Linked DNA regions of Homo sapiens. The protein of the gene in region 1 interacts with the protein of each later gene in a pairwise test. Each region holds a gene or a part of one and is shown in the gene's direction. Other genes may lie near its edges.

Evidence for each region.
Region 2: the proteins of DEF6 (region 1) and CCDC88B interact in binary tests that used the Homo sapiens proteins (3 or more experiments, as listed by UniProt).
Region 3: the proteins of DEF6 (region 1) and EIF4ENIF1 interact in binary tests that used the Homo sapiens proteins (3 or more experiments, as listed by UniProt).

Annotation. Positions count from the first base shown.
Region 1 is NC_000006.12:35,307,811-35,314,829, forward strand, and holds part of DEF6 (differentially expressed in FDCP 6 homolog), read left to right. Parts: intron 1-1,859; coding exon 1,860-2,000; intron 2,001-2,648; coding exon 2,649-2,834; intron 2,835-4,403; coding exon of another isoform or gene 4,404-4,491; coding exon 4,492-4,728; intron 4,729-4,815; coding exon 4,816-4,962; intron 4,963-7,019.
Region 2 is NC_000011.10:64,335,997-64,343,206, forward strand, and holds the start of CCDC88B (coiled-coil domain-containing protein 88B), read left to right. Parts: upstream 1-4,207; 5' UTR 4,208-4,270; coding exon 4,271-4,330; intron 4,331-4,544; exon of another isoform or gene 4,545-4,610; coding exon 4,611-4,756; exon of another isoform or gene 4,757-4,796; intron 4,797-4,910; coding exon 4,911-5,022; intron 5,023-5,112; coding exon 5,113-5,182; intron 5,183-5,273; coding exon 5,274-5,332; intron 5,333-5,424; coding exon 5,425-5,508; intron 5,509-5,602; coding exon 5,603-5,746; intron 5,747-5,852; exon of another isoform or gene 5,853-5,908; intron 5,909-5,997; coding exon 5,998-6,143; intron 6,144-6,297; coding exon 6,298-6,379; intron 6,380-6,525; coding exon 6,526-6,684; intron 6,685-7,182; coding exon 7,183-7,210. UniProt on the Homo sapiens protein: Acts as a positive regulator of T-cell maturation and inflammatory function.
Region 3 is NC_000022.11:31,486,840-31,494,410, reverse strand, and holds the start of EIF4ENIF1 (eukaryotic translation initiation factor 4E transporter), read left to right. Parts: upstream 1-4,568; 5' UTR 4,569-4,717; intron 4,718-4,854; exon of another isoform or gene 4,855-5,167; coding exon of another isoform or gene 5,168-5,263; intron 5,264-5,665; coding exon of another isoform or gene 5,666-5,692; coding exon 5,693-5,788; intron 5,789-7,571. UniProt on the Homo sapiens protein: EIF4E-binding protein that regulates translation and stability of mRNAs in processing bodies (P-bodies). Plays a key role in P-bodies to coordinate the storage of translationally inactive mRNAs in the cytoplasm and prevent their degradation.

The DNA of each region.
Region 1 (7,019 bases):
GTCTCAATACTTTCTCCCCCTCCTCTCTGAAAAGAGAATAAAATGAAGGCTTGGCACACACACCATCTCCGAGACAGTGCTAGCTCCTGCCTCCTAGGAACTGATTCCAAGGTGAACTGCTGGTGGTGGAAGAAGCCCTTCAATATAGCATGTATTGATTGCACTTGATGTACAAAAGAGGACATAGATGCTGAGGGACATAAAGATGAACAGAGACCTTGTCTCCAGAGTTCACAATCCAACGGAGGAGGGAGACTTGACATCAGTATTCTAGTAGGAAGGCAACCTGTGAACCAGGCACATTTAGTTTCAACCTCAGCTCTGCCATTTACTCTTAAAATTTCCAAACCTCTGTGTCTTCACCTGAAAAACAGGCTTAATAATATTTGCGTATATAGGTGATTGTGAAGACTAGAAATGGGGTATAAAAAGCGCTTTGACTGGGTGTAGTGGCTCATGCCTGAAATCCCAGCACTTTGGAAGGTCCAGATGTGAGGATCACTTGAGGCCAGCAGTTCAAGGCCAGCCTGGGCAACATATGCAGACCTCTGTCTCTACCGAAAAAAAAAAAAAAAGTTTTGGCCGGGCATGGTGCCTCAGGCCTGTAATCCCAGCACTTTGGGAGGCCGAGGTGGGCGGATCGCCTGAGGACAGGAGTTCGAGGCCAGCCTGGCCAACATGGTGAAACCCTGTCTCTACTAAAAATACAAAAATTAGCTGAATGTGATGGTGGGTGCCTGTAATCCCAGCTACTTAGGATGCTGAGGCAGGGGAATCACTTGAACCCAGGAGGTGGAGGTTGTAGTGAGCTGAGATCATGCCACTGCACTCCAACCTGGGTGACAGAGTAAGACTCCGTCTCAAAATAAAATAAAATAAAATAAAATAAAATAAAATAAAATAAAATAAAATAAAATAAATAAAATAATAAAATAAAATAAAATAAAATAAAAAACAGTTTTAATTAAATAAACCACCTCCTACAGTGACCGGCATATGGTAAGTGTGCAATAGTAACTAGTGACTTTTTAATCATTTACACTGCTTGTGACAAATGCTATAATAGAATTACCCCAAGGAGATTTTATTTTCACCAGATTTCAGATTTCAACCCCTTTATTCTAATATCATGGATTTGTTCAACAAACCCACATTTCCCCTGCACACCATTATGACCACTATCCCTTCTAAGCCTTGCCCTCTCCATGTCATGGACCATTTTTCATGACCCTTCTTTGAGCCCTCTCCTCTCCCAGAGCAGACACGCTTAGGTGATAGGCACACTGCAGCCAGGACACTGAGTCTTTGATGGAAACCATGATAAATTGGCAGCTTCTGCCCTGGGGTGGCAGACTAAGTCCCTGCAAACCCTGCAAACTGTCTAGCATTGTGGGAAGCACTTGGGCTTTGGAATCTGATGGAGATGGATTTGAACTCCAAGCTCTTGTTCAGTGTGGGTCTTTTGGCAAGTTACTGAATCCCTTGAGCCTCAGTCTCCCTGTCTGTAGAAAGAGGACACCAATACCTAATGAAGTGGCTAAGAGTATAACTGCATGGGTTTGAATTCCAGTTCTGCCAGCTGTGACCTTGGGTGAGAAATATCTCAGGGCTGCAGGAGTTTTCATTTGTAAAATGGGTATATGAGTAGTTGTTATGGTGGTTAAGCAAATGATATGTAAAGTACTTTAGCTCAGTGCTTGGCACATAGTATATAAGTTTTAGTTATTACTGAACTGAACAGTGTGTGTAGAGAACTCAGCCAGGATGGGGTGAGGACAAGCAGAGAGGTGGGGAGCAGTCCTCTGGCCCAGTTTTGGTTGGGGTGCAGAAAGACACACTGCCACTCTACTCTATCCCAGGTGCTGTCCCACAACCTGTACACGGTCCTGCACATCCCCCATGACCCCGTGGCCCTGGAGGAACACTTCCGAGATGATGATGACGGCCCTGTGTCCAGCCAGGGATACATGCCCTACCTCAACAAGTACATCCTGGACAAGGTGGGGCCCAGCTTGTAGGGAGCATCTGTAACCTCTCCCCACTTTTCCAGCCTGGCCAGCAGCCTAATACCTTGCCACTCCAACTCTTCGCCCCTGCCATAAACTCCTACTTCTGCCTGCTCTGTCCGTGACTGCTGTCCCATCACGTCCCTCACATCCCAGCCACCTGCCCCCTTCCTGTCCCCCTCAATTCACCTTCAATGTCCCTCATCTCTAATGAGGTGGGCCCCACCCTACCCATAACCTTCCACCGAATCCCTGCCCGGCCCTCCTCCAGCTTCCAGGGTTCTCCACCCTTCCCAGACTGTCCCCCTGAACTCCCCCTCCAACTCCTCCAATCTGTCACTGTGTTTCCAGGTTCTTGGCTCTTAGCTTCCTGCTGGGTTTCTCCTTCTTTGTCCTCTGGGCTGAAAGACTAGAGTTAATCTGTTGTCAGGGGGCCTGGGTGGGTGTGGGTGTGTTGTGGAGGGTGGAGTGGTTGGAACCAGCTAGTTACCTGGTAATCAGCTCAGGGATCCCTTGAGTTAGGGCCCTGGACTTGGCCAGGTGGGGAGCAGGGGCATAGATGAACCCAAGAAACCCAGCTGGAGCCTAGTGTCGTGGTAGAGCTGAGATATGCAGTCAGCTGATTTGCAGCCCTGGTGGCAGGTGGAGGAGGGGGCTTTTGTTAAAGAGCACTTTGATGAGCTGTGCTGGACGCTGACGGCCAAGAAGAACTATCGGGCAGATAGCAACGGGAACAGTATGCTCTCCAATCAGGATGCCTTCCGCCTCTGGTGCCTCTTCAACTTCCTGTCTGAGGACAAGTACCCTCTGATCATGGTTCCTGATGAGGTGAGGGTGATGGCAGCCCCAGGGACTGAATCACTTGGGACCAGACCTAAGCAAAACCATGAATGAGACCAAACCACCTTTGGTGCCTTCCCATATCCCCTTTCTTTCTTTACCATCTTCCCATGCTGGTATCTGTCCTCACCCAGCTGTCTCCAGATGCCTAGAACTGCCTGTGTCAGAGTAATTTTGCCTTCTTCCAGGAAAACTGAAATTACACTTTCATGAGGGTTCTGCTGGTCCTCACTGTAGGAAAATGATCTGCAAATTCTGTTTACACAGAGGTCTAAATGCCAGATACATTACTGAGCATTACTGGCAATCTAGGAAGGGTGCTTTTTTTTCCTTTACCTTTTGCCACTTCTTCCAGGACAGGAAGGATGCTTTACAAGGCAAGGGGAGACCTTTCTGAGACAGGAGGTTACTCTGGTTCCAGATTTTCCCTTTCTGCCTTTCTTCTGGAAAGCCAGGACAAACTCAGCTAAGAGACCCAGGGATAGGGCATCCTGGGAGAAAAGGCTGGGAATCTGGTCCCTATCTCCTTACTCCTGGGTGAAGCCAGGGAAGGCATTTTCCCATCCACCTGTACCCTCCCTCTTATCCTCACTTCCCTCCCCTGCCCATTTGGCCTTGTGACCCTTTAGTCCTCTTGGTGGCTGTGGAGATGCCAGGGTGACTTTAGGTCTTTAGAGTGGGGTTTACAGGAGAGGGGGCTTCTGTACTTACAAGAAGCCCTAGCATGTCAAGCTCCACTCACATTTGTCCTGGCTTCTGTTTGTGGGAAGGGTGATGAAGGGAACCACCCGAGCCCTGAACCAGTGCCCTCTACTAAACACCCAAACAAGACCCAGGATCCCCCAGAAAGTCCTAAACAGAGTGTCCCAAAAAGCTGCTGGGGCAGGTGAGGGACATGTGTCCATCTGCACATACACTTGGCTGGCTGCCCTTGTTAGACCCCTGCCAGTCAGGGCAAGGTGGCCTCGGAGGCCAGGAGGTTGTTTGCTTCTGCGATCAACATACAGAGTTAACAACTGCAGCAGGATGTACCCCAGCCACCACTTCCGGTTCCTCTGTAACAGGTTTCCTGTCCCTGCCCAGCTTACCTCTACTCCCCACTCCCCAACGCCTACCCCTACCCCAAATCCCCTTCCTCTCCCACAAGGGAAAGATCCCCAGGGTTGGGGATTGGGGCTTGGAATAAGGACCTGAATGGGATTCAGGAGATCAGAATCGGGTTCTGGCTGCCCCCAGTTTGCTGTGTGACTTAGAGCCAGTCACTTCCCCCTTTGGGCTTTTTTTTGGTCATCTGCAAAATGAGTGATTGGATGAGAGGGCCTTTGCACTCCCTTGACACTTTCTGTGATTTATTGCCTCTTTCTGGACCCCAGATCTCAGGTCCCCTTCACCTTGCCCTTAAGACAGGAAGGAGTGGGACTGGAGGTTGTGGACGGGGAGAGAAAACCTGAGTTGGGGTTGGGGCTCCAGGATCCTCTCCCAGGTCTTTTCCCTGGCTCCATAACATTCGGTCCTCTGGCCCCCTCAACGCTCTGTCCCCTGTTTCCCTCTGCCCAGGCTCTGGGAGCCAGATAGAGCACTCCCTGGTGTTGGTGCTGGCAACACCACCTGCTGCAGCTACCAGGCCTTCCTTCTCCTGCTCCAGGTGGAATACCTGCTGAAAAAGGTACTCAGCAGCATGAGCTTGGAGGTGAGCTTGGGTGAGCTGGAGGAGCTTCTGGCCCAGGAGGCCCAGGTGGCCCAGACCACCGGGGGGCTCAGCGTCTGGCAGTTCCTGGAGCTCTTCAATTCGGGCCGCTGCCTGCGGGGCGTGGGCCGGGACACCCTCAGCATGGCCATCCACGAGGTCTACCAGGAGCTCATCCAAGATGTCCTGAAGCAGGTCAGGCAAGCTGGGAACTAGGGGAAGCACACAAGGTGCAGGGCGAAGGGGGGCCTGGGAAGCCTCTGACGTAACTCCGGCTGGCAGGGCTACCTGTGGAAGCGAGGGCACCTGAGAAGGAACTGGGCCGAACGCTGGTTCCAGCTGCAGCCCAGCTGCCTCTGCTACTTTGGGAGTGAAGAGTGCAAAGAGAAAAGGGGCATTATCCCGCTGGATGCACACTGCTGCGTGGAGGTGAGGGGCAGGATGGGGGTGGAGGACATCTCAGGGCCCAGAGTGTCCTCAGGGGCATGAGAAGACAAGGGGGTCAGGAGAGGGGCAAATGGAGAAAAGCCACAGTGACACAAATTCCTGCTTAGATTAGTGTGACCCAAATATATCCGGATGCCTCAAGGCCATTCTCATCCACGTCAGCACTTAAAACTAAAACTGCAACTCAAGCACCAAAGTAATTGGTGAATAATATGGAATTTGCTCAAGATTTCAGAGGAAGTGGCTTATATCTATACTACACAGCAAATCTTTCTAAAAATCCCTTTTAAAGGTTTTTCTTCTTCACCCATATTCCATTCCCTTTAGCAACTCTGTACTTCCCTATTCTCCTTCCATACCCCTCTCCTCTGTCTTCCCCTTCTGTTTCCTCCCTTGTGTTCATCACTATTTTAGAGGCTTAAAACACAAGCGTCTTTACTATTTTAAATAATATGTATATATGTGTGTGTAACATGAAACTTCCCATTTTAACTATTTTAAGCGTACAATTCAGTGGCATTAAATACATTCATGAAATTAAAAAATTCTTTTGATATATAACAGATGTACATATTTTCAGGGTACATGTGATAATTTAATACATTCATATATTTTATAAAAATCAAATCATGTCATTAGGTATCCTTTACCTCAAATATTTCTTTATGCTAGAAACATTCAAATTATTCTCTTCTATTTTGAAATATACAATAGATTATTGTAAACTGTAGCCACCCTACTGATCTATTGAATCCTAGGTCTTATTTTTCCTGTCAAACTGTATGTTTATACCCATTCATCAACCTCTCTTTGTCCTCCCCCCACACTTCCTGGCCTCTGGTACCACTAATATACTCTCTATCTTCATGTGATCCACTTTTTTAGCTCCCACATGTAAGTGAGAACATGCGATAGTTGTTTTTCTGTGTTTGGCTTATTCACTTAACAAAATGACCTATGGTGCCATCTATGTTGTTGCAAATGACAAGATTTCATTCTTTTTATGGCTGAATAATATTATATATATCACATTTTCTTAATCTATTTATCCACTTCTGGGCACTTAGGTTGATTTCATATTTTGGCCATTATGAATATCTCTGCAGTAAACATGGGAAGGCAGATATCTCTTCAATATATTGGTTTACTTTCTTTTAGATATATACCCAGCAGTGGAACTTCTAGATCATATGATAGTTCTATTTTTAGTTTTTTGAGGAACCTTCATACAGTTTTCCATAGTAGCTGTACTAATTTATATTCCCACTAACAGTTTATCAGGGTTCCCCTTTCTCCACGTCTTCTCCAGCATCTTTTTACAGAAAAGATATTCTTGGCCAGGCGCAGTGGCTCATGCCTGTAATCCCAGCACTTTGGGAGGCCGAGGCTGGTGGATCACCTGAGGTTGGGAGTTTGAGACCAGCCTGGCCAACATGGTGAGACCCCATCTCTACTAAAAATACAAAAATCAGCCGGGCATGGTGGTGGGCGCCTGTAATCCCAGCTACTCAGGAGGCTGAGGCAGGAGAATCGCTTGAACCTGGAGATGGAGGTTGCAGTGAGTCAAGATTGCACCATTGCACTTCAGCCTGGGTGACAGGAGTGAAACTCTATCTCAAAAAAAAAAAAAAAAAAAAGATGTTCTCTATTTTTTTTGTAAAAAGCCATTTTAACTGGGATGAAATGATATCTCATTTAATTTTGATTTGCTTTTCTCTGATGATTAGTGACATTGAGCATTTTTTCATATCTCTGTTGACCATTTGTATGTCTTCTTTTGAGAAATATCTATTCAGATCTTTTGCCCATTTTTAAACTGGATTATTTGGTTTTTTGTTACAGAGTTGTTTGAGCTCCTTATATATTCTGGTTATTAATCCCTCGTCAGATTGATACTTTGCAAATATTTTCTCCTATTCTGTGGGTTGTCTCTTCACTTTGTTGATTGTTTCCATGGCTGTCCTGAAGCTTTTTAGCTTGACATAATCCCATTTTTCTATTTTTGGTTTGGTTGCCTATGCTTTTGAGGTCTTCCACAA
Region 2 (7,210 bases), on another chromosome or scaffold:
TATACACATATATACATATATACACACATATATATACACACACACATATATACATACACACACACACACACACACACACACACACACACACACACACACACATATATATATATATATCGGAGTTTTGCTGTTGTCCCCCAGGCTGGAGTGTAGTGGCCCGATCTCGGCTCACTGCAGTCACCGTCTCTGGGTTCAAGCAATTCTCATGCCTCAGCCTCCCCAGTGACTACAGGCATCCATCACCACCATGCCTGGCTAATTTTTGTATTTTTAGTAGAGACAGGGTTTCACCATATTGGCCAGGCTGGTCTCAAACTCCTGACCTCAGGTGATCCACCCACCTCGGCCTCCCAAAGTGCAGGGATTACAGGCGTGAGCCACTGTGCCTGGCCAGGTATAGAATTTTAAAAAAACTTACATTTTAGGTTCAGGGGTACACATGCAGCTTTGTTATATGGTAAACTCATGCCACGGGGGTTTGTTGTACAGATTATTTTGTCACCCAGGTATTAAGCCCAGTATCCAATAGTTATTTTTCCTGCTCCTCTCCCTCCTCCCACCCTCCACCCTCAAGTAGGCCCCAGTGTCTGTTGTTCCCCTCTTTGTGTCCGTGTGTTCTCATCATTTAACTCCCACTTATGAGGGACAACATGCGGTGTTTGGTTTCCTGTTCCTGCATTAGTTTGCTAAGAATAATGGCCTCCAGCTCCATCCATGTCCCACGAAGGACATGATCTCTTTCTCTCTTTTCTTTTTTTTTTTGAGATGGAGTTTCCCTTTTGTTGTCCAGGCTGGATTGCAGTGGTGCGATTTCGGCTCACCGCAACCTCCGCCTCCTGGGTTCAAGCGATTCTCCTGCCTCAGCCTCCCGAGTAGCTGGGATGACAGGTGTGAGCCACCGTGGCTGGCTAATTTTGTATTTTTAGTAGAGATGGGGTTTCTCCATGTTGGTCAGGCTGGTCTCGAACTCCGGACCTCAGGTGATCCGCCCGCCTCAGCCTCCCAAAGTGCTGGGATTACGGGCGTGAGCCACCGTGCCCGGCCTTGATCCTTGATATTATTAATACTAAAGATAATAATCAGGTTGGGTGTGGTGGCTCACACCTGTAATCCCAGCACTTTGGGAGGCTGAGGTGGGCAGATCACCTAAGGTCGGGAGTTTGAGACCAGCCTGGCCAACATGGTGAAACCCCATCTCTACTAAAAAAAATAGAAAAATTAGTCAGGCATGGCAGCGCATGCCTGTAATCCCAGCTCTGTAGGGAGCTGAGGCAGAAGAACCGCTTGAACCCAGGAGATAGAGGCTGCAGTGAGCCGAGATTGCTCCACCACACTCCAGCGTAGGTGATAGGGCGAGACTCTGTCTCAAAAATAATAATAATAATAATAATAATCACCCCAGGGACATTTAATGAAGGCTTGTGCTGGGCATCAAGGCCTGGAATTCTGGCAACAATGAGAGGATCACTCCCATTTCCAGAGGTATTTCAAAAGGGCTGAACAGCTGGCTGTGCTCCTCTGCTACCAATCCTGCATGGCTTCCTGTGGCCTGGTCAAGCCCAGCTCACCTTGACTATGGGTGCCCCTTGCTCCTTGCACTCTTGCCCCACTGCCTTCTTTTAGTTGGCTCTGCCACTTAAAAGCTGTGTGACCTTAGGCAAATTACTTAACCTCTCTGTTCCCTCCTCTATAAAATGGAGATAATCCATAGTCCTTATTTCACAGACTAGTCCAGAGCCAACACGTTAGTAAGTGTAAAGCACTTACAACCATGCCTAGCTCAAGGGAAGCCCGTGTTTGCTATGATGTCATTATTACGCCATATTTCATCAAATCTAAGATGTTGGCCAGATGTAGTGGTGCACGCCTGTAATCCCAGCACTTTGGGAGGTCAAGGCAAGCGGATTGCTTGAGATCAGGAGTTCAAGACCAGCCTGGGCAACATGGTGAAACCCCATCTTTACAAAAAATACAAAAATTAGTTGGGTGGATGGTGGATGTCTGTGGTCCCAGATACTGAGGAGGCTGAGGTGGGAGGATCCCTTGAGCCAGGGAAGTTGAGGCTACAGTGTGTTGTGATTGCATCACTGCACTCCAGCCTGGGTGACAGAGATCCTGTCTCAAAACAAAAAACAAAAAAAAACTAAGATGTCATCGATTATAAAAATGTCACTAAGAAAAGAGAATGCTGCCAGTTAACGATGTCCCAAGGTTCTTTCATCACTAGAATTTTTCTTTTGTATTTCTCGAAAGAGCTCTGTTTCACTTAAATGTAGATTCTTATCATATATAATTCTCATGCACACATAAAAAGGATAATAGAAGCAAAATAAATTGGTTACCATGTTCAGAAAACTCCTTCACATTTAGAGTCCAACTTGTTTGAATCATTTTTGGTCTGAGAGTCGTGATGTCTGTGTCTGCCTGCCACCTCCTTCTCTGAGTCCTTGAGAGTTCTACGGAGAGCAGTACTGCTCCAAACATTCCATAAAACAGCCAGGCGCTCTTAAGCCAGCTTTACAATTGTGCAGATGAAGTGGAGCCGAGTTTTCACTCTGCTCTAGGAGTGTCACTGACAGGCCGGGCGTGGTGGCTCACACCTGTAATCCCAGCACTTTCAGAGGCCGAGGTGGGTGGATTGCCTGAGGTCAGGAGTTCGAGACCAGCCTGGCCAACATGGTGAAACCCTGTCTCTACTAAAAACACAAAAAAGCATCTGGGCGTGGTGGCAGGTGCCTATAATCCCAGCTACTCAGGTGGCTGAGGCAGGAGAATTGCTTGAACCCGGGAGACGGAGGTTGCAGTGACCCGAAATTGCACCATTACACTCCAGCCTAGGCGACAGACACAGCGAGACTCCGTCTCACCAAAAAAAAAAAAAAAAAAAAAAAGGGAGTGTCACTGACAAGCCTGGTTCCCTTCCCCTGGGGTTTCCCACCATTTGAGTCCCAGGGCTAAAAAGGGTTCTGCTTGCCTCTAGGATTTCTTCCAAGCTGCTGACACTCTTCTGAAGGATTTGATGCTGGTGCTTTTCAGGTGTGGGTCCTGACAGTGATGTTGGGACGGCAGCTAGCCAGACAGCAACTGTACCATGTAAACTCACTTCAGAGGTGTAGAATGGGGGCTGCGTGAGGCAGCTCATGCCGTCATCTCAGCCCTTCAGGAGGCCAAGGCGGGAGGATCACTTGAGCCCAGGAGTTCGAGACCAGCCCGGGCAACACAGCAAGACTCTGTCTGTACAAAAAACAAGCAAAATAATTAGCCAGGTGTGGTGGCACACACCCGTAGTCCCAGTTACTCAGAAGGCTGAAGTAGGAGAATTGCTTAAGCCCAGGAGGTTGAAGTTGCAGCGAGTTGTGATCTTGCAACTGCACTCCAGACTAGGTCACAGATTCAGACTCTGTCTCTTAAAAACAAAACAAAACAAAAAGTGAAACGTGAACATTAAGCATCTTGGAATAGATAAAACATGCATAATTTCCAATCTTTTTGCTGACCATGCTTCCAGCTGCCTCAGAGCAGTTGCACATTCTGTTCCTGCTGCCTGGAATACCCTCCCTTCCTTTCCACTTTGCCCTGTTAACCCAGCCATCCCTGATCTCATGCGTACTCCAGGATGCCTTCCCTGATCATCCTGCCGAGGTCAAATCCCCTCCCCTTCATAGCACCTAGTATGGCTACAACAGTCTCGAGTGTATAGAGGATGGGGTGGGGTGAGGTCACAGGAATGATGCTCCCTTCTATCTGGGGTTCAAGGGAGGCTTCTTGGAGGAGCATCTGAACCAGGCTTCCCAGGGGATGTGGTTTGGGTAACTTTGAGAAATACTGAAGGGAAAAGAAAGAACGCTGTAGTGAGTGAAGCCTGGCATTTGGGAAGATGGGTGTGTGGGTGACCAAACTCACCACGCAAGGCCCAGAGCCCTTTTGAGGCCCTCGAAGGTCCCAGGCTGGGGTCATCCTCTCCAGTTTCAGTTTGAGAAAACAAGGCCCAGAGAGGTGAAGGGCTGTTCGGTCATTGCCCATGGAGCCAGGGGAGCTGTGGGCCTTCCGCCGCCAACCTCTGGGCTAGCCCTGCAGAGATGCTAGGAGGATGCAGGGAGGTGAGGTGGGGGCTGAGGTAGGACTCAGACTGCCCAGGCCCGCCTGCACCCGGAAGGAGGAAGCTGCACAGGGTGTCTGTGGCTGGCCCCGGGATCCCCCACTCGGGGACTTCCTCTTCCTCTCAGGGCAGGTGCAGCTGCCACAGTGAGACGGGCACCCCGACCCGGGCATGGAGGGGGGCAAGGGGCCCAGGCTCAGAGACTTCCTGAGTGGGAGTCTGGCTACCTGGGTGAGGGGGCAGGTGGCAGCGGGTTGGGGAGGGGAAGTGAGCCCCAGCCAGGGGCTGGTGTTGGCGCTGGCCGGGGGAGGGTGAGGCAGAACCAGGCCGGAGGGGAGGGCTGGGTTCAAATGTGGGGGATGGAGATATGGTGTGGGGGGCTGTGGTGAGGGAAGAGGGGACAGAGGCACTCAGAGGACGGGTGAGAAGGGGTGCTTGGGCTCACTGGGGCAGGTCGGAGGGGCTCAGGGTTCACTCTGCTGGTCGGCTGACCCCTCTGGGCTCCTCACAGGCGCTGGGACTGGCCGGGCTGGTCGGGGAGGCGGAGGACTCGGAGGGGGAAGAAGAGGAAGAGGAGGAAGAGCCGCCCCTTTGGTTGGAGAAGAGATTCCTGCGCCTCAGCGATGGGGCCCTGCTCCTCCGGGTGCTGGGCATCATGTAAGGGGCATCGGGCCGGGGCGGTGGCGGGGAAGGATCTGAGAGGAGGGGAAGCGGGTGGGCGGAGCCTGATGCTCAGTGGGCGGGGCCTGAGGGACGGTGGGCGAGGCCTGTTGACGGGAGGCGGGTCCTCGAGCCCACCTCCGGCTCATAGTGCCCCCAGCTCCCGAGGGGGACCTCGGATGCTCAGAGGCCTTGACGGACCTGCTGCCTGGCGAGTGTGGAACCTGAACCACCTGTGGGGCCGACTGAGGGACTTCTACCAGGTAAGGGGTCTCGAGGGAAAGGCGGAGACAGGAGGGGAAGAGGAGCCCCTTCGGGAAGGCGCCTCATATAGTCTGCCTCTCTGCCTCCAGGAGGAGCTGCAGCTGCTGATCCTGTCGCCACCCCCAGACCTCCAGACATTGGGATTTGACCCTCTCTCAGGTGCTCTCCCCACCCACACCCTCCTGCCTCTGCCCCCGCACTACTCTACCTTCCCCGCCCCAGTTAACCCCTTGTGGCATGTGCCTTGCAGAAGAAGCGGTGGAGCAGCTGGAAGGCGTTCTTCGGCTACTGTTGGGAGCGTCAGTACAGGTGAGCCGGCGGTGGGAAGGAAAGGTTAGGGTCGAGCTTTGGCGGTAGAGGAGGGAGATCCTGCACCAGCTCCCCTTCCTGTCTCCCCTCAGTGTGAGCACCGGGAACTCTTCATCCGCCACATCCAGGGCCTCAGTCTCGAGGTCCAGAGCGAGCTGGCCGCTGCCATCCAGGAGGTACTGAGACGGTTCGGCAGCCCAGACTGGTATGGCACCTGGGACGCCCTTGCCACACCGCGGCTTCCACTGAACTGCTCTTCCTGCGCCCCAGGTGACCCAGCCGGGGGCCGGCGTGGTGCTGGCACTGTCTGGGCCAGATCCTGGGGAGCTGGCACCTGCCGAGCTGGAGATGCTGTCCCGGAGCCTGATGGGGACACTGTCGAAGCTGGCACGGGAGCGTGACCTGGGGGCCCAGGTAGGGGCAGCAGGGGCATCGTGGACTCAGGTTGGGGAACTGGAGGACCATCAGGGAGCCGGTTGTGCAAGGGAGATGGAAGTTTGGGGCCCAGGCATGGGGTTGTGGTCTGAGGTCTTGGGCCATCAGTGATGTCACAACCAGATGGCCCAAGACCCCAGACCACAACCCCATGTCTGGTGTTGTGGTTGGGGGTCGATGTGCAGAGGCATTGGATAAGTTAGTCCTGACCCTTGACCCCTGACCTACAGCGGCTGGCTGAACTGCTGCTGGAGCGAGAACCCCTCTGCTTGAGGCCTGAGGCTCCCTCTAGGGCTCCCGCCGAGGGCCCCTCGCACCATCTGGCCCTGCAGCTGGCCAACGCCAAGGCTCAGCTGCGGCGTCTGCGGCAGGAGCTGTGAGTGTGCGCAGCCTGGGAAGGGGACTGAGTGGAGAGGGGCAGATTAAGCCTGGATGGGACCCTAGCCCTGGTGGCTACGGGAGGGGTCAGGCCTGGGAAGGGCTGGGGGTTGTGGGCCCCCAGACCCTCCCTAGACTCCCCTTCCCTCCAGGGAGGAGAAGGCCGAGCTGCTGCTAGACTCCCAGGCCGAGGTGCAGGGTTTGGAGGCCGAAATAAGAAGGCTCCGCCAGGAGGTGCGCTCACATGCTCCCCGCCACCGCGGCATTCCCTAACCTCCCCGCACCCGGTCCCATTGCCTCCCTCCCAACCCGGCTCCTTCCCGTCCCTAATCCCTCTGGCCCGCGGCTGGCTGTTCCCAGCTCCACACCGTCTGGCCCAGGCCCAGGCGCTGTCGGGACAGGCCAAGCGGGCCGAGCTGTACCGCGAGGAGGCAGAGGCGCTGCGGGAGCGGGCCGGCCGCCTGCCCCGCCTGCAGGAGGAGCTGAGGCGCTGCCGCGAGCGGCTGCAGGCGGCTGAGGCCTACAAGAGTCAGCTGGAGGTGAGGCGGAGACGGAGCCGCGGGGCGGGGCGTGCGCGAGGGGGCGGGCCAGGAGGAGGGGCGAGATTGGGTCCCGAGGGCAGAGAGGCAGGTTCTCTGGAGGGGACAGTCACAGGTGGAGAAATGGGTGAGGACAAATTCAGGGAGGTGGCGTCTGGGAAAGGGCCTCCAGAGGATGGGGCAGGTGTAGGGGAGTGGGGGGGCTGTGTAAGTGATGCAGCCTTGGAAGGAGGGCTGTTCCCGGGGGGGAGGGGCGGGGCATGGACAGAAGGGCGGGGCCTGCACAAAGGGCGGGGCCAGGGGCGAGGGAGAAAGTACCTGAAGAGATCTTGGTGGGAAGAAGATGGAAGGGAGTGGCGGGGCCTAGAGACTGATGGGGTGCAGGGTGGGGGAGGGAGGCAGGGTCTGTGACAGGCTGAGGGGAAGGAGTTTGGGACCCTCAGGCGCTGGAGTGCATGGGGGCTGCGTGGCTACCGGTTCTCCCTGCTCTCCCACCAGGAGGAGCGGGTGCTCTCGGGGGTGCTGG
Region 3 (7,571 bases), on another chromosome or scaffold:
CTTGAACCTGGTGGGGGCGGTTGCAGTAAGCCAAGATCCTGCCACTGCACTCCAGCCTGGGTGACAGAGCGAGACTCTGTCTCGAAAAAAAAAAAAATCTAAGGGTTACTCTTGGAGCAAGAAAAACTGAGTAGGAAAAAGCCCATTTAGAGAGGTGCAATCCAGCCTTCTGTGATGAGGCTGCTGAAAGGTCATGGCCTGGCATTAAACTCTCTCACAGGTGCTCTCATAATTTCTGGGTTTCTAGTATTTTCTTTTTTCTTTTTTTTTTTTTTTTGAGACAGTTTCACTTTTGTCACCCAGGCTGGAGTGCAGTGGCGCGATCTCGGCTCACTGCAACCTCCGCCTCTCAGGTTCAAGCAATTTTCCTAGCTCAGCCACCCAAGTAGCTGGGATTACAGGCATATGCTACCACGCCCAGCTAATTTTGTATTTTTAGTAGAGACGGGGTTTGGTCACGTTGGCCAGGCTGGTCTAGAATTCCTGATCTCAAGTGATCCTCCCACCTTAGCCTCCCAAAGTGCTAGGATCACAGGCATGAGCCACCATGTCCGGCCAGTTTCTGGTATTTTCATTTGCTTCTCTGCTGTTCTTGGACTGCTAATTTCCCCGACTGACTGAACCTTTGAGACCCCTTATGCCAAACTTTGGGCCAACAATTTAGACCTAAACCAAGATCTTACACATATTTAGTAAAGAACTAGAATAATTTCTCTCTCAAAGAGCTTTCCCAAGCTGATACTTGAAAATTGGTTATTAGTTGCAGAAGGGGGCATTTAGAATTACAAATTATTGGCCTGGCACGATGGCTCACACCCAGCACTTTCGGAACCCAAGGTTGGGGGATCACGTGAGGTCAGGAGTTCAGACCAGCCTGGCCAACATGGTGAAACCCCATCTCTACTAAAAATACAAAAGTTAGCCAGGTGTGGTGGCACAGGCCTGTAGTCCCAGCTTCTTGGGAGGCTGAGGCATGAGAATTGCTTGAACTCAGGAGGCAGAGGTTGAGTGAGCCGATTGTGCCACTGCACTCTAGCCTGGGCGACAGAGCAAAACTTGGTCTCAAAAAATTACAAGTTATAGGCCAGGCGCGGTGGCTCACACCTGTAATCACAACACTTTGGGAGGCCAAGGCGGGTGGATCATGAAGTCAGGAGATCGAGACCATCCTGGCTAACGTGGTGAAACCCTGTCTCTACTAAAAATAAAAAATTTAGCCGGGCGTGGTGGCGGGCGCCTGTAGTCCCAGCTACTCGGGAGGCTGAGGCAGAATGGCCTGAACCCAGGGGGCAGAGCTTGCAGTGAGCCGAGATTACGCTACTGCACTCCAGCCTGGACGACAGAGCGAGACTCCGTCTCAAAAAAAAATTACAAATTATCAGGCCGGGCGTGGTAGCTCATGCCTGTAATCCCAGCACTTTGGGAGGCCGAGGTGGGCGGATCATGAGGTCAGGAGTTTGAGACCAGCCTGACCAACATGGTGAAATCCTGTCTCTACTAAAAATACAAAAATTAGCTGGGCGTGGTGGCATGCGCCTGTAATCCCAGCTACTCAGGAGGCTGAGGCAGGAGAATCACTTGAACCTGGGAGGCAGAGGTTGCAGTGAACCAAGATCACACCATTGCACTCCAGCCTGGGCGATACAGCGAGACTCCTTCTCAAAAAATAAAAAATAAAAATAAAAATTATCCTGCCAAGGAGAGTAACACTCAAAAACTACAATGAAACAAGAATTTGCAATTTGTAAGCATCTAGCTTTTGCCAGGCACAGGTGAAAGAAGTTTAGGGAAGCCTCCCTTAGATTATTACCTTTTTTCCTAGGTAATAACCATCTTCTTCTATAAGGACAGAGTGAGACTTTGAGAGGTAAGAAATGAGTTGAGGCCAAAGTTCTACAAGACATTAAAGGAGCCTAGTGGAAAAGTAGGTCCTAAGTAGGATAGACCAGAGGGCTCAGGAAATTAGTTCCAGCTATCAAATCATGATAGCTACAATGCCCTGGGCACTGATATCATGTATGGCTTGTGGTGGTTTAAAACATGCCTACACATTCCTTGACATTCCTCCCACATAGAGGTGGAGTCTAAGTTCCTTTGCTTTGAATATAGGGTAGCCGTGCTGACTCCTTTCTAAGGAACAGAATGTGGCACGTGGTAGAACTGATTCCAGGGCTAGGTTAGGAAAGGCAATACAGCAACTATATGGCTTTCTTGTTCGCTCTCTGAACACTTGCCCTTAGAATCCAGCCCTGATATTTCAAGGAAGCTCAGACACAGGGAGAGGCCATGTGTAAGTGTTCCAGGGACAGCTCTAATGGTCCCAGGTCCTAGCTGACAGCCACCATCAACCACCAGACATGTACGCTTTTACGGGACCCTCAGCCCCAGCCTTTGGGCTGCCCCCACTGGTGCTGAATGGATCAGAAACCAGCCGTCCCAGCAGGAACCAGCCCATTTTGCAGATTTGAGAGCAAAATATAATTGGAATTCTGGGGTGGTTTGTTACGTAACAGTAGGTAACCAGAAATCCATAATTTCCGGGTTTCTAGTATTTTCTTTTTCAAGAAAGCTCAGGTGTGGTGGCTCATGCCTGTAATCCCAGTGCTTTTGGAGGCTGAGGCAGGAGGATCACTTGAGGCCAGGAATTTGAGACCAGCCTGAGCAACATAGCAAGATCCCGTCTCTGCAAAAAATCGTTAAAAATTAGCCTGCTGTAGTGGCAGGAGCCTGTAGTCCCAGCTATTTGGGAGGCTGAGGCTGGAGCAGTGAGCTATGATTGTGCCATTGCTTTCCAGCCTGGATGACAGAGCAAGACTTCATCACCCCCAAAATAAAATAACCAGAGCAGTGTTTTTAATGTTATCTTTAATTCCCTCTGCAAGCCTAAAAAGTAGGTATACTGCGATCCCTTTCGGAAAAATGAGGAAAGGGAGATCCAGGTGGTGAAATGCCTGGCTCAGGTTTCACACTAATTGGCAGGGTCAGGATTTAGCAGCTTCAAAGAACGGGCCTTCTCCACTACTCCAGGGAGTCTCCAAGACACTAAAGGGGATTAGACCTGTTTCCCACAGCTTTAGGAAGAATTTGGATTCCAAAAACAGCTTGATTGTTAAAATAATAACATCTGTATTATCACCTGCAACGTGTCTCTGTATAGGCTTAAAAAGGCTCAGCAGCTTTATGGGTTATATATGGTTTTTTACCCACCTTATCCTGTTTAATCTTAACTGCCCCATGAGCAGGTTATATCATCTTCGCAATTTCACAGGTAAAACTAAGAATCAATAGACTAACTCTCCATAGCTTGTAGGAGGTGGCAGAGATGAGAATGCAAACTCAGGCCTGATGTGCAAGTGTTTCCCTCTGCCTCTTGCCTGTAAAAAAACAGTTTGTAAGAAACACACTTTATTCAGTAATACAAACGAAAAGTTTTCTGTTGCCAAGATTCACAAGAAGGGAGCTGAGTTAGTGGTCACTCACTGCCCAACACCCTAATTTCACAAGTGAAGTGAAGTTCCAACAAAGTAGGCCTCTTGGAAGAAATGTAGACGTTGCTGTCCTTTAACCAGGAAAATTGCGTTCTCGGGACTTCACGCCTATGTATCGCTTCACACCAACGCTGCGCAGTACCACAGGGCAGAAATGGGTGCTTGTGGTATTCCAGCACATAGGACTTCCTCCCCAGGATGCAGTTACCCACACTGCTCACATATTTGCATTTCTGTGGCCCCCTGTCAGCCTGAGTCTGCACTACGTGGTAAGCACTTGACATTCGCCGTCTCATTTCCCCAACTCCACTCGCACTTCCCCTTTCTGTGCAGGCTAAGGACAGATTCAGGTTACCGGAGGGAAACAACATTTCAATGAATTTGTTAGTCGCCTTTATCGCTATCAAAGCCAATCGTGACAAGTTTGTCTTTTAATGCAGCAACCAGTACTCGCGCATAAGCCTCATAGATTTACAGAGGCCATTTTAGAAACACGACCGAAACTTAGGTTAAGTCAGCTTTGCCTAAGATCACGCCACTCGCAAAACAGCTGAGGTTCGAACCCGCACTGGGAAGGCTCGGAAGACCCCAATCTCCTATCTCAAATTCCCACTGCCGAAGCCCCACGGTTCTCTGCCTATGCGAACCATGCAAATACAGCGGTCGTCGCGCCACAGGCCGTGCTAGCCGCCAGCCCAGCCCCATCTAGCCACCGCCTCCGGGAGAGTGGCGTGCCGCGAGTCGCGGGTCCCAAGTGCCGTCCGCTCTGCCCTGCAGCGCGCGTGGGAACGCGGCGGCGGTGGCCTCTGGGCTGCCCACGGCGACCGCCTGCGCGCACGGGAGCGGGTTTCCGCTATCCCCACCGTGGCCTCCTCCTCGCCGCCACCACCTTCCCACCCCCCGGCCCGCGCAGGGGCTGGCGTCCGGGAAGCGCGCGGCGATGCTTCTTTTTCGCCCGGCACCGCTGCAGCCACCTCACATCCGGGCGCGCGGCGGGGAAGGCGGCGCCGGGGCCAGGGTGCGTGGAGGGAGTTATTAAGGGGGAGGGGGCCGAAGAGGAGGGGCGGAGGGCCGGGCTGCAGTTACGGCGGCTGAAGAGAGACAGCCCAAGCCGGTCGGGGTGGGGGCGCGAGAGCGAAGGCTGCGGGGAGCGGCGCTGGGACCGGTGCGGGCAGCGGGGAGGGGAGCGGCGGCCGAGGCAAAGGGCCGCCGAGCGGCGGAGGCACCGAGTAAGGGTCGGCGGCGGTGGCGGCTGGGTCCGGGGCACCGCGCGCCCGGTGCTCCCGGGTGTAGAAGGGGCGCGGGCGCATTGCTCCCGGGGTCGCGTGCGTGAGCGCGGGCGCCGGGGCGCCCGCAGGGGGTGGGCAGGGGCGCGAGGCCCGCAAGGCGGCCGGCGGGTAGCCGGCGGGCTGGCTGGCGGGGACCGAGCCGCCGGGCCGGGGAGGACGGCTGCGGGCCTGCGCTAGCTCCAGCTTGAAGCGCCCGGGCCGGGAGATTCGGCCTCCCTCCTCCCTGCGGCCGGCCGCCCCTCAGTGAGTACGGTCTCCGCCCTTCCTCCGAAGGAGGCCGCTGGGCCCGGGCCTGCGTGAGGGGCTGCGGGTTGGGGTCGCGGCCCGGGGAAGCCAAGTTTCGGAGCTGAAGCCGGTGCTCGCCCTTTCCTTGCCATCGGCGCCCCTGACATGGCCACAGGTGCGGCTGGCCTGGCGAGGGGCGCTCGGGCCCCGTCCCCAGTCCCTGATCGCCGGATAACAAGGGGCAGCTGGCGCCGTCCATTGGCAAGTGACAGGCACTTTCCAACAGACTTCGCGGGTTCCCAGCCTAACCAGTCTTCTACCTGCCCCCACTCCGGGAAACTTCCCCACCAGTCTTGAAAGATCCCCATGGGTGGCAGCTACTAATCTTGGTTTCTCTTGTGTTAAAGCTGCTTAAAGGTTATATACCTTGAATTGGGCACCTTCTACTTTTTACCATGTTGATGCTTAGGATACTAGGAAAGAGAACTGAGTACCAATGATTCTATCTCCAAGTTCTAATTTATAGCATAATTTTGGGGTGGGGACTTGTTTTTAACACTAGCTGTTTTGAGAGATTAAAAAGTTTCAGCTTCTGAAGAAACAGCCAAGATTTCTGAAAACTTACTGTTCTCGGTGACAATTTTGTGCCGATTTATCTTCCAGGTGCAGAGCATTGTAGACCAAGGAGCCATGGATAGGAGAAGTATGGGTGAAACAGAAAGTGGAGATGCTTTCCTTGACCTGAAGAAGCCTCCTGCCTCCAAATGCCCCCATCGCTATACAAAAGTAAGGTTTGCCACTAATGAAATAGTGTTTCTTTTTAGGTGGCGAAGTTAGTAACATTGTATAACTATTTCATTCCTATTAAGTGGTAATCTCATTCTGACTCACTACATGGACTAAATATTAACTAAATTTAGTAGTGCATTACTTTGAACATTTTTCTGCAAGTGTAGATACCCAGCGTTTAAGCTGGAATTTGCTTTGAGAGGCTTTTAGGTGAAGGGAATGTAGGCTTAGATTTTTTTAAAATTGCGGATCAGTATACTTTGTAAGTTCTGTAACAGCTATGTAATTGGTACGTTTATTGATTTACATACTGTACTGTGAGGATTAAAGCCCTAGGATGCGTTACAAAGTTAGTGTCCTCTGTATTGATGTTTCCTTAAGAGGCAGACTCCCCATAGGAATGCTCTTGAGTGTGCTTTTCATGGGTAACTGGCTTTTCAATCCTGTTTTTTTATTTTCTATTACAAATTGGATATGGACTCAAAAAAGTAAGGCTTCAGTCATATTTCCCCTAGCTAAAAACTGGAGATGCTTAAACTGCTTGTCCAGATAACTGCTTTTGGGAGAGAGAGGAAGTCATATTTATTAAAGATCTTGCATCAGTACATGTCTTGTTGGCTACTGAATGTTTTTGAAGAGGTTGACAGGACTCAAATTGTAAATTCATTTCTGGGTCCCTGAAATGTGTCAGGCTGGATCCCATAAAACTTGCTCAACAGTGTTGAAGCAGTTGGGACCACTGATGACAAGAAGGGTTATATCCTAGTTGGGCACACATCCATATATTTCCTTAGTATGGATTTTTCTTTTTTTTTTTTTTTTTTTTGCACCCGACAGGGCGTCACTTTGTCGCCGAGGCTGGAATGCAGTGGTGCAATCATGGCTCACTGCAGCCTGGACCTCCCGGGCTCAAGCCATCCTCCCATCTCAGTCTCCTGAGTAGCTGGGACCACAGGCGTGCACCAGTACGCTCGGCTAATTTTTGTATTTTTTATAGAGATGGGAATTCGCCATGTTGCCCAGGCAAACTCCTGGGCTTAAGCAATCCGCCCACCTTGGCCTCCCAAAGTGTTGGGATTACAGGGGTGAGCCACTGTGCCAGGCCTCAGTCATTGACTCTGACATGGCTTATTGTCCCTGGCTTCCTGGGATACTGATTGGTTAATGCTTTAAAGCCAGCTCTTGTTTGTGTTCTGGTGCACTACTCTTACCTACTTGATAAAGTATCAAATACTGTCAGATTAATACTCATTTTCAGCACTGAAGGAAACTGAACTGCAGTAAGAGAAATGTTTTCAGGTGTAAAGTGTTCTTGGTTGATTGCTCTCTTAGGATGATCTGTTTTGGTATGACAGCATGTAAGTTGATAGAAAACTTTTTCCACATTCAGATTTGGTCTTCCCAAATATATTTTCTCTCAAACCTGAGAGTGTTTGAGTAGTGTTTCACAACTTAAATTCATTTCCTAAAATGCTGACAGGTGAATTCTGAATGGAGAAAAGCCATCAAATGAAGGGAAAAGAAAATCTTCCAGTACTTTTTTTTTTTTGAGATGGAGTTTTACTCTTGTTGCCCAGGCTGGAGTGCAATGGCACCACCTCTGCCTCCTAAGTTCAAGTGATTCTCCTGCCTCAGCCTCCTGAGTAGCTGGGATTACAGGCACGCGTCAACATGCCCAGCTGATTTTTTTTTTTTTTTTATAGTAGAGACGGGGTTTCTCCATGTTGGTCAGGCTAGTCTCGAACTCCCAACCTCAGGTGATCTGCCCGCCTTGGCCTCC